Linked DNA regions of Homo sapiens: region 1 is linked to region 2. The links come from fine-mapping of genetic effects on gene expression. Tissue or cell type: whole blood. Region 2 holds a variant in brackets; the other region holds the start of a gene. All regions are shown on one strand. Distances are from middle to middle.

Region 1 (5,000 bases), 460 kb after region 2:
ACAAAAGCAATGAGAGCTGAACGTAAGGCCACAACATATAAAGAGGGATTTTATCTTTACATATACAAAAAAGAAAGAGCAGCAGAAACCACGGCTGCAAAAGGAATAAAGGGAGGCAGAGAGAAGAGAAGTCTCTGAACATGTTTTTGAGTGTCCTTTAGTTTCCAATGCACTCTTCTGCCTCACAAGGTTGCAAAAACGGCCAGGCATGAGATGGGTGGAAGAAAGCTGTAACAGAAAAGCACCCTCCCTTCCCCCATCTTCTCTCTTCTCTCCCAAAAAGAGCTGTGTTTGTCTGTGCAAACCTAGTCCCAAATATGGGAGAGAGAGAATGAATGTGTGTATGGAAGAACAATGAGCCCTCAGCTTGGTATTGTGTGTGTGTGTATGTGTGTGTGTGTGTGTGTATATGTGTGTCTGTCTGCCTCTGCCTCTTTTCCCTTCGACCTCAACAACAACAGGGAGAGCTGGAAGCCAGCTTTCCACCCATCCCAGGCCATCAAAATCAAAACTGGTTGATAATTTACAGTAGTATTAACTCAGCAAGCAAATCCATGGAACAAAATATCAACCCAAAGATGATTTTATTATTGTACAGATCCAGCTTCTCTCCCCTCCCCCAACAGACTGAGACTAAAAAGACCAGTGTACACTAGACAAAAAGGTCTCTCTTTAAATGGAAAGCAATTATGAAAACTGTTTCAAATCTTAGATGCATCAATTCCTGCTATATTAAAATGTCTATTTTGTAATTCACCAAGTTCACCCTCTTACTAGTTATCTTTTTTTGCGTTTAAAAATTCGCTGTGAAGAAGGCTATTTCACGATTCATACAAAACTACTTTCTAAATGTACCTTAAAAAAGCAACAGATACTGAAACATTTAAAGCACCCAGTTTCTCAAGGACCCATTTTACTTAAATCAATGTTTGAAGTCTGTAATCCAGAAAAATTGTAAGCAAACCTTGGAAAAGAGACAGAGGAAAATGACAATTCAACAATGAATCATTCTGTTTTCCTTTCAACAACTTCTCAAGCAACCAGTTTCAAAGGAAGCCTGCAACACTTTTCCCCCCTCCTAGCAGACACACATACACACGTGTATGTAAAACTACGAATCTTTCCATCATCTTAAAAATTAGTAATAAATAGAAGCCACCCTCCTTCAGAGAGCAGAACTAAAACAGGATAGTAAGAATTCTATTCTGCTGCAAGTGACTTTGGGTTTCATAATTTTCTAATCACATACAGCTGAGAACTAGAGATTGGGAGCACAAAGAGGAAATCTTCCCCCAATGAGAAAATGATACTTTAATAATAAAGTCCTCCCCCCAGCACCCCGAAATCCACAAACATTCAAGAAATTTACAGTTTCAGTCCTTGACTTCCTTCCCTTCCAGTTTCAGCCAATAATGTAGTCACATGAAATAGTTTAACCTCAAACAAGTAGAACAAGAGCATGAATAAGAGGCCAAGAGAGAGCAGGGGTCAGAAGGCACGCAGGAACGGTCACCTGGCCCGGACAGGACCAAAGAAGTGCCCTGCCCTCGCCCGACTCCCCTCGACTTCGGCTTCGACCCCAGCCTTTTCTTCCTGCCTCCCCCCGGGCGAGTGACTGCTTTCACGGCCGACCCTCTCTGACCACCAGGACGAGGGGCCAAAAAAGAAAGCACACGACCCGGCGCGGGCAAGTTGGACACTTACCTTCCCCTAAAGCGCTACACCATCAATAGTGAGGTGTTCGCGGCCCAGCTCCGGGGAAAGTGGCGGGGATGGGGCGGGAGGCCGCGCGGAGGCTGCGGGGCCGCGGGGCGCAGGGCCGAGAGGGGCGGCCCGCGGGGAGGCGACGCGGAGGGGCTGAGGGGGCTTCCCTGCCGTGACCTTTCCTGCGACTTGAACCTAGGCTCCCTCCTCCTCGGTCGGGCAGATCTTTCAGAAGCAGGAGCCCAGGATCATGTCTGGTTTTGTTTTCCGAGGGCGAGGGGGCTCCCTGAGGATGATGGTGATTTTTTTTTTTTTTTAATCCTCAACTAGGAGAGAAAATGAGGCAGAGACAATGTGGGGAGCGAGAGAGGGGAAAAGGACGGGGGAGGAGGCGGGGACCGAGGCCCAGCGGGGCGAGCGTCTCGGGGTGTGCGGGAGGCTGAGGAGGCTCCGGAGCGCGGAGGGTTGCTCGCGAGCGTCTGTGGGAACAGCGGCACCTCCGCGATGGTGGCGGAGCCGCGGCGGAGCTGCTGCACCGACCCGCCGCCCACTCCCCGCTCGGGCCCGGCCCACCTCGCAGTATCGCGCCCCTCCATTGGTACAGCGCGGTGTGACGCGGCCGGGGGCCCGGCCAATGGGAGGCGGAGGAGGCGGGATCTCTTTTTCCTTTTTTTTTTTTTTTTTTTTTTTTTTTTAATCTTTTTAATAAAATGAGCAGAGAAGAAGGCGGAGAGAGGCCGAGCCTTGACAACGCCGCGGCCCGGGGCTCGAGGGCTCGCGCTGCAGGCGGCGGCCAGAGGCGGTGGGCTGGGCTCCCGCCGCGGGCGCGTCTTTGTGAGAGTGCGAGGCCGGCCCTCCTCCGCCGCCCGCCGCGCTCCAGTACCGCCCCCCGCGCCCCCCGGGCTGGGCCGGGCTGGCGGCGCGGGCAGGTCCCGGGTGGGGTGGGGGGAAGTCCGGTTGATCTTGCTGTTACCCGGGTCTTAATTGGCCTTTTCAGTCATTAGGACGCGGATCCATGTTGCTGCGGGCTACAGAGTGGGTGTAAACCATTCTCATATGGACTCTTTCGAAATTCTGATGAGCGGCTTGTAATATTTTTCAAATAGTGTACATGACAAAAGATGAATTACAGAAAGAAAAATAAAAGTGATAAGTCGCACTGCTTATTTGAAAAGAATAAAAAGTGTCATGAAGGCATAAAGGAGAGACTGTACAGGTACAGAAGGGATTTTAGAAAGAGCAGTGTACAACTCTATAAGGTACGTGTGAAAAAAAATCTAAAAAGAGGAAAAGACCAAACATCACCTCTTTTTCTTTGAAGAATGAAGTATTGTGTCCCACTTCCCGAAAGCCTGATAATCACAGGGTCTATCATGCTGTAAAGGGAGTAGGGGCAGGCCAAATGATCATATTCTAGTTCATATAATTTATGGGATTGAGGGGTTTGGAAATTTCAATTATGATTAGCAGTTTTTGAAATGCACATCATGTTTATTGAGTTCTTTCACAGAGCCTGGCACGAATCCAGGGTGAATCATCAACCTATTGTTGGTTTGTTAATATTCTGTAAATGCTTATTGGTGTCCTTATACCATACACTCTTCCCGAAGGAGTTAAGGTCCGTATAAAATAAGGGGTAGAAAACGTAGCACAAAATAATTCACTCATCTGTTTCAAAAGAAGTGATAATTTTCTCCTTGGAAAATCTATTCAGATTATAATTTCCACATTGAATTATTCATTTTTTTTTTTTTTCTGAGAGGGAGTTTCACTCTTGTTGCCCAGGCTGGAGTGCAATGGCGCGATCTCGGCTCACCGCCACCTCCGCCTCCTCAGTTCAAGCGATTCTCCTGCCTCAGCTTCCCGAGTAGCTGAGATTACAGGCATGCGCCACCACACCCAGCTAATTTTGTATTTTTAGTAGAGATGGGGTTTCTCCATGTTGGTCAGGCTGGTCTCGAACTCCTGACCTCAGGTGATCCGCCCGCCTCAGCCTCCCAAAGTGCTGGAATTACAGGCGTGAGCCACCGCACCCGGCCCACATTCAATTATTCTTTAAAGAATAATTTGGACTAACAGATACTATTGGACCATGACCCAAGAGATCTTAAAAAAAAAAAAAAAAGCCATAGATCCTTGCCATCACATTTCTGAGTAACTTTCAGCAAGAAAAATCCTCTTTGCTGGAGTTATGAAATGGGGAAACTAGTTAATATCTCTTTATATATCTGATAATGTGAGAACTGAATTTTAAAACCTAATAAATTCAATAAACTGCTTCCAACATTCTAGATATGGATAGGACTATCTGACTTCCTGTTTGGAAATGATGAGGGATAAAGTATATCAGTTAGATGGCTTCACTTTCCATCAAAATCTCTATCTACAGGAGCATTCTTTCTTTTTTTTCTTTTTTTTTTTTTTGAGACAGAGTCTCGCTCTGTTGCCCAGGCTGGAGTGCAGTGGCACGATCTCAGCTCACTGCAACCTCCACCTCCTCGGTTGAAGCGATTCTCCTGCCTCAGCCTCCTGAGTAGCTGAAATTACAGGTGTGTGCCGCCACACCCAACTAACTTTTGTAATTTTAGTAGAGATGGAGGTTCACTATGTTGCCCAGGCTGGTCTCGAAACTTACAGGAGCATTATTTCTAATAAAGATTCAGCTCTGTGGTAGACAAATGGACAATGCACTGCCATCCAGCAGGGAGGAGAGAGGCTCTCCACGTTAGGAAATAACATTTACTATGGTATTAGGGATTGGCCGTCACTTTCATTTATCCATAAAAATGTAAATTTAGAAGTCCAGAAATGCCACATAGTTACAAAGCATAATATATGGTATCAGACCACAAAATTAGCAAACTAAACCCATTTAACTGTAACAGTCCCACGAAAGAATTGTGGTCCAGCCATAAAGCCGGAGAGTACTGGACCTCCTTCCAAGGATCTGAGAAGCTGATAATGCAGTAAAATAATCTTCATCGTTAAGAACAACTATTAAACTATTGATTGAAAGCTTATGTTCCCAGTGCCCTAAGAAACATGTTACATTCTTTAGCCCACTTTTTCTCCCCATGAAGTGTATTATTATTATCTCTTTTTTTTTTTTTTTTTTTTTTTGAGACAGTTTCGATCTTGTTGCCCAGGCTGGAGTGCAATGGCGCGATCTCAGATCACCGCAACCTCTGACCCCCGGGTTTAAGCGATTTTCCTGCCTCAGCCTCCTGAGCAGCTGGGATTACAGGCATGTGCCACCATGCCCAGCTAATTTTGTATTTTTAGTAGAGACAGGGTTT
Region 2 (7,331 bases):
GCTGAACCTAAGGAAAGGACAAAACGCCAGATGGAGGCGGTGTGCAGCTCTTCAATGTTTGTCCCCCTTGGCTGGAATGACCGATGACTTCCTCCTCACCCAGGATGGCTCCTGGTCACCAGGGCTGGATGCACCACCTGGCTACAGGTGGCCCTGCCCCAAAGTGGCTGCCTCCACCTTCAGCAAGAGCTCCAGAGGCCGAGAGAAGTGACGAGCCCACCGCTGATGCAGGCACTCCCTCGTCCGCTTGTGGAGTGCCCCTAACAGGCAATCCCAGGCCAGTTTTGTCGAGGACCCGGGATCAGCAGGGTCCCTCTCGCCGGCCACCTGGGCCTGCCCTCTGCCTGTCAGGTCACAGGAACACACAGCCTTGCGCCAGTGGGTGTTGGGCTGGCACCCCCTGCCCAGGGCTGTCTCCCTGCTCTTCACTCGCAGAACCTAAAGGAGGCCAGCAGAGTGGGTGGCGCAGAATGGGGACCTGGCACAGCACTGCCCTCTCCTCTCTGCTGGCACAAATCTTGCGTCTCTCCCTTCAGAACGTTGCCTTGATCTGACCTCACTGCACCACCTCCTGCCCTCACCTCCTATCTCCCAGCTCCAGCCAACACAGGCGCTGGCAGGGATTTCAGGGTTGCCACCTCCAGCCATGCTGCCCTGGGGTCCCTGGAAGATTGGGAGCCCCCGCTCTGCCTCTGTGGCTGCTCTTGCCCCGATTTCCCACAGCTTGCCCTTTCATCTCCTCCATGTTTCTGCTACCTCCTCAGCGGACCTCTCCTGACGGCCTTCTCGAAACCGCCATACTGCCCCTGCGCCCAGCTCTCCTGATCCCCTCTTCTGGATTTATTTTTTTCCAGAACATATACTTTCTGCCTCTCACAACGTGGCACACGTCTTTCAACTATCTCCCCAAACTGGAAGGTAAATGTGGACAGGGGTTCTGCCAGCACCTACAACTGTGCCTGGCACATTCCAGGGGTTCAGTAAACACTTGCTGAATGAATGATGCATGAATGAACAAATGACTACCTGTCCTCAACACTGCTCATACTGAGGCTTGTAAGGTCTACACCAGGTGCCAACAGAGCTTCAGATATGAGGACGGCAATGGTGAGTGCTCTCCCATGTCAGGACTGGGTACAGGGGCAGGGGAGGCGCCTGGTGCCTCCAAGCAAGGTGGCTCCCCGCCCTCCCTCTGGGCCCTGCTCTATCAGTCATCCTGCCCCACACTGGAGGGTGGCCAGTGAGGAAGCCCTGCACGTAGGCTGTCCCACAGGACCTGTACTCCAAGTCCCATGGAGCAGGTGAACCTGCCTCCTCGTAAGCACAGTAGCCACCCCCTGCGCCATCTCACCAGGCTGCAGAGGGAGTGAGGATGCCAGCTGGGCCTGCCTCTGCCTCAGAGCAGCCTCTCCACAGCTGGTCAATGAGTGGCCTTAAGGAGCTCCTACTTCCAGGGTGGACAGGACTGAGCAGCCCTGGCCAGGTGGGTCAGCTCGGAAAACTCAGCCAAAGCCAGCAGGAGGCCTGCCCAGCCTCGCTCCTCAAGGGAAGAGGACTGTGCTTTTCATTCTCCCTCAGCCACCCTTGAGTAGCCCAGTGCCTTATCTGTACGTTCCTTGGCTCCAAAGGCCACATGACACTGCTCTGCTGCCCTTACCCTGCCCTGTGGGCCTAGGCCACTTCCCTCCATCCCAGGCACAGGGCCAAGAACCCAGGCTTCACCCGTGTGCTGCAGCTGTCTGAGGCCTTGCAGTTCTGGAGAGCTGCGGGGCCGAGGAGAGACTGCGATACAGCAAAACCATGACGGTAGTGGATGCTGAGCTCTTCTAAGATCTGCCAGGGATGAGGGATCTGTTCAGAAAAGAACAGTTTCCGCTCCTGGATGGTGACTGTCACTCATCAGGCTCTGCACCCCTCCCCGTGCCTCTGTCCCACCTGCCACGCTGGGGCACGCACCTTGGTGGAGGGGGTCCTGCTGGTGGAGGTGGAGGTGGGAGTGAATGTGAGAGTGCTGGTGATGGTGCGGAGTCACGTTGAACATCTGCAGTCGGGCCAGGGGATCGCTGGTCAGCGATGCCATGCGCTCTGCGTGGATACGCTCGGCTGCCAGTCTGTCAGGGTAGCTCATCTCGGGCCGCAGCTGGGGGCCCGCCAGGGCCAGTCTCTCCCTCTCCAAGGGGTTCAGGCCCGGGTGGAAAGAAGCAAAAGGGTGGGGCCCGGCGGTCGGGGGGATGGTGAGGGCGCTGTGCCGGGCAAAGTGCTCCATGGGGTTGGCGGCTGGGTGCAGGGGGTCCAGCTCTGGGGGCTTCACCTCGAAGCCCGGCTTCATCCTCTCCCGCAGCTCCCGCTCTCGGATCTCCCGCTCTCGGATCTCCCGCTCCCGGAGCTCCCGCTCGCGGATGGTGGGGTCGACGTTGTAGAGGCCAGGCATGTGGTAGGCCAGCAGGGGGTCCGTGGGGTTAAGGGGCATGTAGAAGGGGTGGTTGCGGTTGGTGGGCGACATGACGTGGGGCCGGGCGTACTCGCTCAGAGTCCGAAGGGCAGGTGTGTCGGGCCCGATGTAGGGGGGCACAGCAGCAATGGTGGTTGGTGGTGGCTCGAAGGATGGCCGCATGTGGCCAGGACCACTGAGCTGTGGGTCACTGAGGCGACCTTCATGCGCTGAGCTGGACGCCTTCTGCAGAAGGAAAAGAAAGCGTGAGGGGTCCCCCGAGCGCCTGGGGTCTCCGCTTGGTCCACACTGCGGAGGTGGGCCTGGTCCTGCTCCTGGCCTGCTCTGACAGGCCAACCTGGTCCCTCCACGGAGACCCGGCCCTGCCTTGGCCTGACACCAGGATGCAGTCCAGGCCCCACAGGGTCGGGCTCACCTGTGCCCGCAGCTCCCCTCAGGCCCAGATGGGAATGTGTCCCTGTGAGACTAAGCTCATGCATGGGTTGTCTACGTGTGAGGGTTGTGTCTGGGAGTGACAGCTGGGGGGCATGGGTGAGTGAGCCCAGCAGGCCAGGAACCTCACTGGCAGTCCCTCATGCCACTTCCTGGGTTGGCTGCCCTTTCCTCCCCGCGACAGCAGAGAGCTGGCCACCACCACAGCACCCAGCCCACGAGGGGGCCACAAAGGCAGGGCAGCTGGAGAGGCCCCTCGCAGCCTGCTTATCGCCTGAGTGCTCAGGTCTTCTCTCAAGGCGCCCCCTTGTGCTTCTCCCCGACTCCTTCAAATTACTTAGAAGTTATGAACCCAAAGGCTGCAGGAGAAGGACAGGCCCTTTCCTCGAAGGCCCTCCGGTAGGAGGACGCACAGTCACTGCTGGGAGTCAGCCTAGACCTGCCATGCGCAGTTACCCCGGCAGCTTCGGATGTGCAGCACCCGTCAGAGGTGTGGAGACAGGGTGTAAATAGCACCCAACCCTCTAGCTGCCAGGAGGCCGAGTCAGGCAGCCAAGGGCAGAGCTCGGTGGCCCAGCGTGGCTCCCAGGCGCAGGATGGACCAGCGCCCCCCGTCACACCTCGCCAACCCTGGACTCACAGCCGCCCGCTCTGCCTCGCGCTCCCGCTC[T/C]CGCTCCCGCTCCCGCTCCTTCTCCTTCTCCTTCTCCCGCTCTCGCTCCTCTCGGGCTTTCTGCTCAGCCTCGCGCTTGGCCTTCTCAATGGCCTCCTCCCTCTTCTTGGCCAGCTTGGACCCGGCCAGAGGCATGAAGTACAGGTCTGTCCGGGCACACGAGTTGTAGCCCCGGTCCAGGTGTTTGTAGAACCTGAGAAAAGCCACAGATCTTGCTGGGAGCTCCTGCCGAGACCCACCCCGGCCCTCCCTCCCACCAGAACTTGCCCCCACCAGCCCACCTGTGCCTGACCCGTCCTGGAGCCCTAGGAAGCGTACCTAGCTGACTGGCTGGCGTGACTGGGGGTGTCCACCACAGTGGGCTCCGGGGACGGGCTCCTTGGTGGGGGAGGGGGGCTCTCAGGCTCCTCAGCGTCGTCCAGAGCCTCCTCCTTGATCTGGACGGTGGGGAGTGGGCAGGACGACCCCCCCGCTATGCTGCCTCCTGAAGCCGCCGCACCAGAGCAGGGTGGCTGGGCCGAGGTGCCAGGTCCCGCCGGTGGGGTAGAGGTGGAGGGGCAGGTCGGAGGGGTGATGGGAGGAGGGCCTCCAGGGACAAAGGGGTGCTGAGCAAACGGGGGTTGGGGGGCCACCTGGTGGAGGCCTGTAGGGGGGTGGGAGGCAGGGGGCGGGGGCAGGTTCTGGCTCTGGGTCAGCCCGGGGGGCTGGGCGGGCGAGGAGGGCAATGGCTGGCTCTGAGGCATGAGTTGCAGGGGTGGGGGGTGAGCCGACGGGGGGTGATGTGTGGACAGGGAGCTCAGGGGCTTCAGGGCTGGAGGGGGAGGCAGGTTGGCATTCATGGAGAAGGGTGAGGGCCCCGAGAGGTGGGGAGGGTGCTTGTGGGCCTGTGGCGCCGGCAGCTGGGGGATGGGAGTGGTAGGCGGGGGCTTGATGTGGGGCATGGCCAAGGGCGCTGGTGGCAGGGGCTGCTCCCGTGGAGGCTGTTGGGACTGCAGCGCTGACTGAGAGGCTGGCAGCTGCAGGGAGGTGTGAGGGTACGCTGCTGCTGGGGAGGTCCCCAGAGGGGCCTGGCCTTGGGAGGCCTGGGGAGGGAGGCCAAAGGGCTGTGGGGGGCCTGGGTGCTGCAGCAGGGGCCCAGCCTGCAGGCTGTGAGGGCCGGGTGGGCCCTGACCGTGCAGTGGGGGCTGGGCATGAGAGGGTGCAGAAGGCTGGCCCGCCGACCCAGTCAGAGGCTGCAGCGGGGGATGTGGCGAGGGATGCGGCGGGGGATGCGGTGAGGGCGGCCGCTGGGGGTGCAAGGCCGGTGCCTGTTGGATGTGGGTGTGGGGAACAGGCGCTGTGGGAGCCTGTGGCTGGTTAGGGGCCTGGGAGGCCGTGGGGGAGCCCTGTGGGGGAACTGCAGTGGCAGAGGGCGTGGGCCCTGGCGTGGGCAGCTGAGGGGTCCCTGGAGGAGCTGAGGAGGGAGCTGGGGTGACCCCAGTGGGAGCCTGCAAGGCTGGGGGCTGGGCCTGCAGCATCTGCTGCTGGGCTGACGAGTCCGAGTCACTCTCATTGTCCTGGGGGCTGGGGATGCTCGGGGACGTGCTGCGATTGTCCTGGTCGATGTCTTTGGGGTCACTGCTACCCTCATCGTTGACGCTGCGACTGTCTGAACTCTCTCCCTCACCTTCAGATGGCGAGTTGGGCCTGCTGATCTCCTGGAGTCAGAGAAGGGAAGGATGGAAGTCCCAGGAGGGCAGAGCCCTGTCTGCTCTGCACCACCAGTGCCGGACACACAGTAATGTTTGTGCAGATGAAGCAGCAAGCTTGGCTCCGGGACCACAGGTCGTGCCCTGACCCAGCCAGTGTCAAAGGCCACTCCAGCCCCACCCTAGGAGACAGGGCACGGCCACCAACTAGGGAGAACCCCGGCTGGGGGCTTCTGAAGAAGCATTAGCTTTACTCAGCAAGGCTCAGCAGCAAACCTCACCTGCGTTTTTGTCTTCTTGGAGCTGGTCCTGTCAGCCTCCTCCGTATCAGAGGCCACCTTCTCCCGCTGGCGTTTGTTACTCTTAAGAGGGGAAGAGGCTTCCTCCTTCACCTTCTGCAGGGGAAAAGCCCACAAGGAGCAATCAGGCCAAGGGAGACCATCCCATCAGCCTCAGCAAGGAAATGACGGTTTGCAGACACTTTGCTCCCTCATTCTGAGTTCCATCTCCAGGAGCAAAAAGCTCTAGAAGGGTCAACTGGGGCCAAGAAGGAACACGTATCTGGGGGTGGGAATGAGAGCCAGCCCTCTGCACCTGTGGGTTTGCATCCTCAGATTCAAGCAACCATGGACTGAAAATGTAGGCAGGACTGTGATGGTTACATCTATACTGAACGTGCACACAATGTTTTCTTGTCATTATCTCCTGAACTAGACAGTGGAACCACTGTTTAAACTGCATTTACATTGCACTGGGCAGTAGAAGTAACCTAGGGATGATTTAGAGTCTACAGGAGGATGTGACTGGTCACATGCAAACCATGTGTCGATGTATATGAGATTTGAGCACCTGTGGATTTTGGTATCCTGGGCGGTGGAGGCTCTGGAGCCAATCTCTAATGGATACCAAGGGAGGACTGTACTTGGCTCTGGAGGGAGCCGTTCTAACCACTCCCCACACTTTCTGAGAACTTGGGAAGCTTGAGGCAGAGGTGGCCCCCAAGAGTTGGTGCTCGAGCCCCCTTCTCTAGGCCCCCAGCCTTCGGTCTGCAGCCCCTAGGCCAGGACAATGCTGGTGTCCAGACAGGCTCCATGAATGAGCTGCATCCTCGTGTCTGAGGGAGCTGATCACGAATACCAGCAAACCAGTTTTAATGTGAGGGAGGGACAGAGTAGGCCCTACTATCCCCCCAGCACCTGACCTTGGCCGACTTCTTCACTGTCTCTGCTTTACTGTCATTGCTGGAGGTACTGGCAGCGCTGGGGGAGTTCCGGCCGCTGGAGCGGATGTCTTCATTGATGGGTGAGGTGCGACCATCAGGGCTGGCTGGCTGCTTCTTCCGACCACTGCGTAGTGTCGACATCTGCCCACCCAAACCGAAGACTGGTGACACCAGATTCCCAGTCCCCATGTGGACCCACCTGAGCCCAACCCACAGGCAGAAGCCTGAAGGCACACCCTATCAGCCTCTCAGCAAATCCCAGACCTTGGCAAACAACAGGCCGCCCTGCCTGTCCCTGGCTGCATGAAGGTCGGTGTGGAGCTCAGGGAAGAGGTGGGGAAATCAGTGGGCTCACGCCAGAGGGCGGTTCTCAAACCTAAAGCACTCATCCCAAGGGACTGTCCTGAACAACGTGTGCTGGAAATGAACCACACTTTCTGAGCGGCAGAAAGTCGCCTGGGGCCATCTTTAAAGCACCCTACACCCTTTCTGTTTATTCCTCATAACCGTCCATTCTCCCAACCAAACCAAATGAAATCAAACACTTGTGGATTTAATCTGACAGGACAGGAAGTGACCCAAAGAGATGAAGCTGTCAAGTAAAGCAGCTCAGCTCCCCAAGCCGCCAAGCGCTTCAGCATGTTTCTGCAAAGCCATGAGGGCTCAGAAGAGATCAGGAGACAATGGTTCTGGCTGGTTGACCTGCTCCCTTCTGAGTGAGCGGGGGCCGGGCTGCCAGCAGCCTCAACGGCATACAAGGGGCAGAGGAAAGTGGATGGTCCCACCCACCTGCCAGAAGGGGCCATAAGGGAGGCTGAAGGGAAAGACCCTGTCAGTACCCTCAGCCCCAAACCTGGAAAAAGCCTC

Evidence for each region. PIP is the estimated chance that this variant, and not a neighbour inherited with it, causes the effect.
Region 1: it holds the start of RERE, and the variant in region 2 is fine-mapped to the expression of RERE in whole blood (TOPMed, PIP above 0.99).

The regions. Positions count from the first base shown.
Region 1 is chr1:8,815,456-8,820,455 of GRCh38, forward strand. It overlaps RERE (arginine-glutamic acid dipeptide repeats), which reads right to left and starts at 2,185. Exons shown (of 23, transcript NM_001042681.2): 1 at 1,705-2,185. RefSeq lists silencers at 1,783-1,842, 2,093-2,392, 2,493-2,722 and an enhancer at 2,135-2,429.
Region 2 is chr1:8,356,240-8,363,570 of GRCh38, forward strand. RERE (arginine-glutamic acid dipeptide repeats) reads right to left here. Exons shown (of 23, transcript NM_001042681.2): 16 at 6,444-6,605; 17 at 5,524-5,637; 18 at 3,873-5,251; 19 at 3,525-3,747; 20 at 1,957-2,677; 21 at 1-7. Among named protein-coding and RNA genes, the nearest start is that of SLC45A1, 42 kb to the left of the region's middle. RefSeq lists enhancers at 2,998-3,499, 3,500-3,999. The variant T/C (reference allele first, on the strand shown) is at 3,555.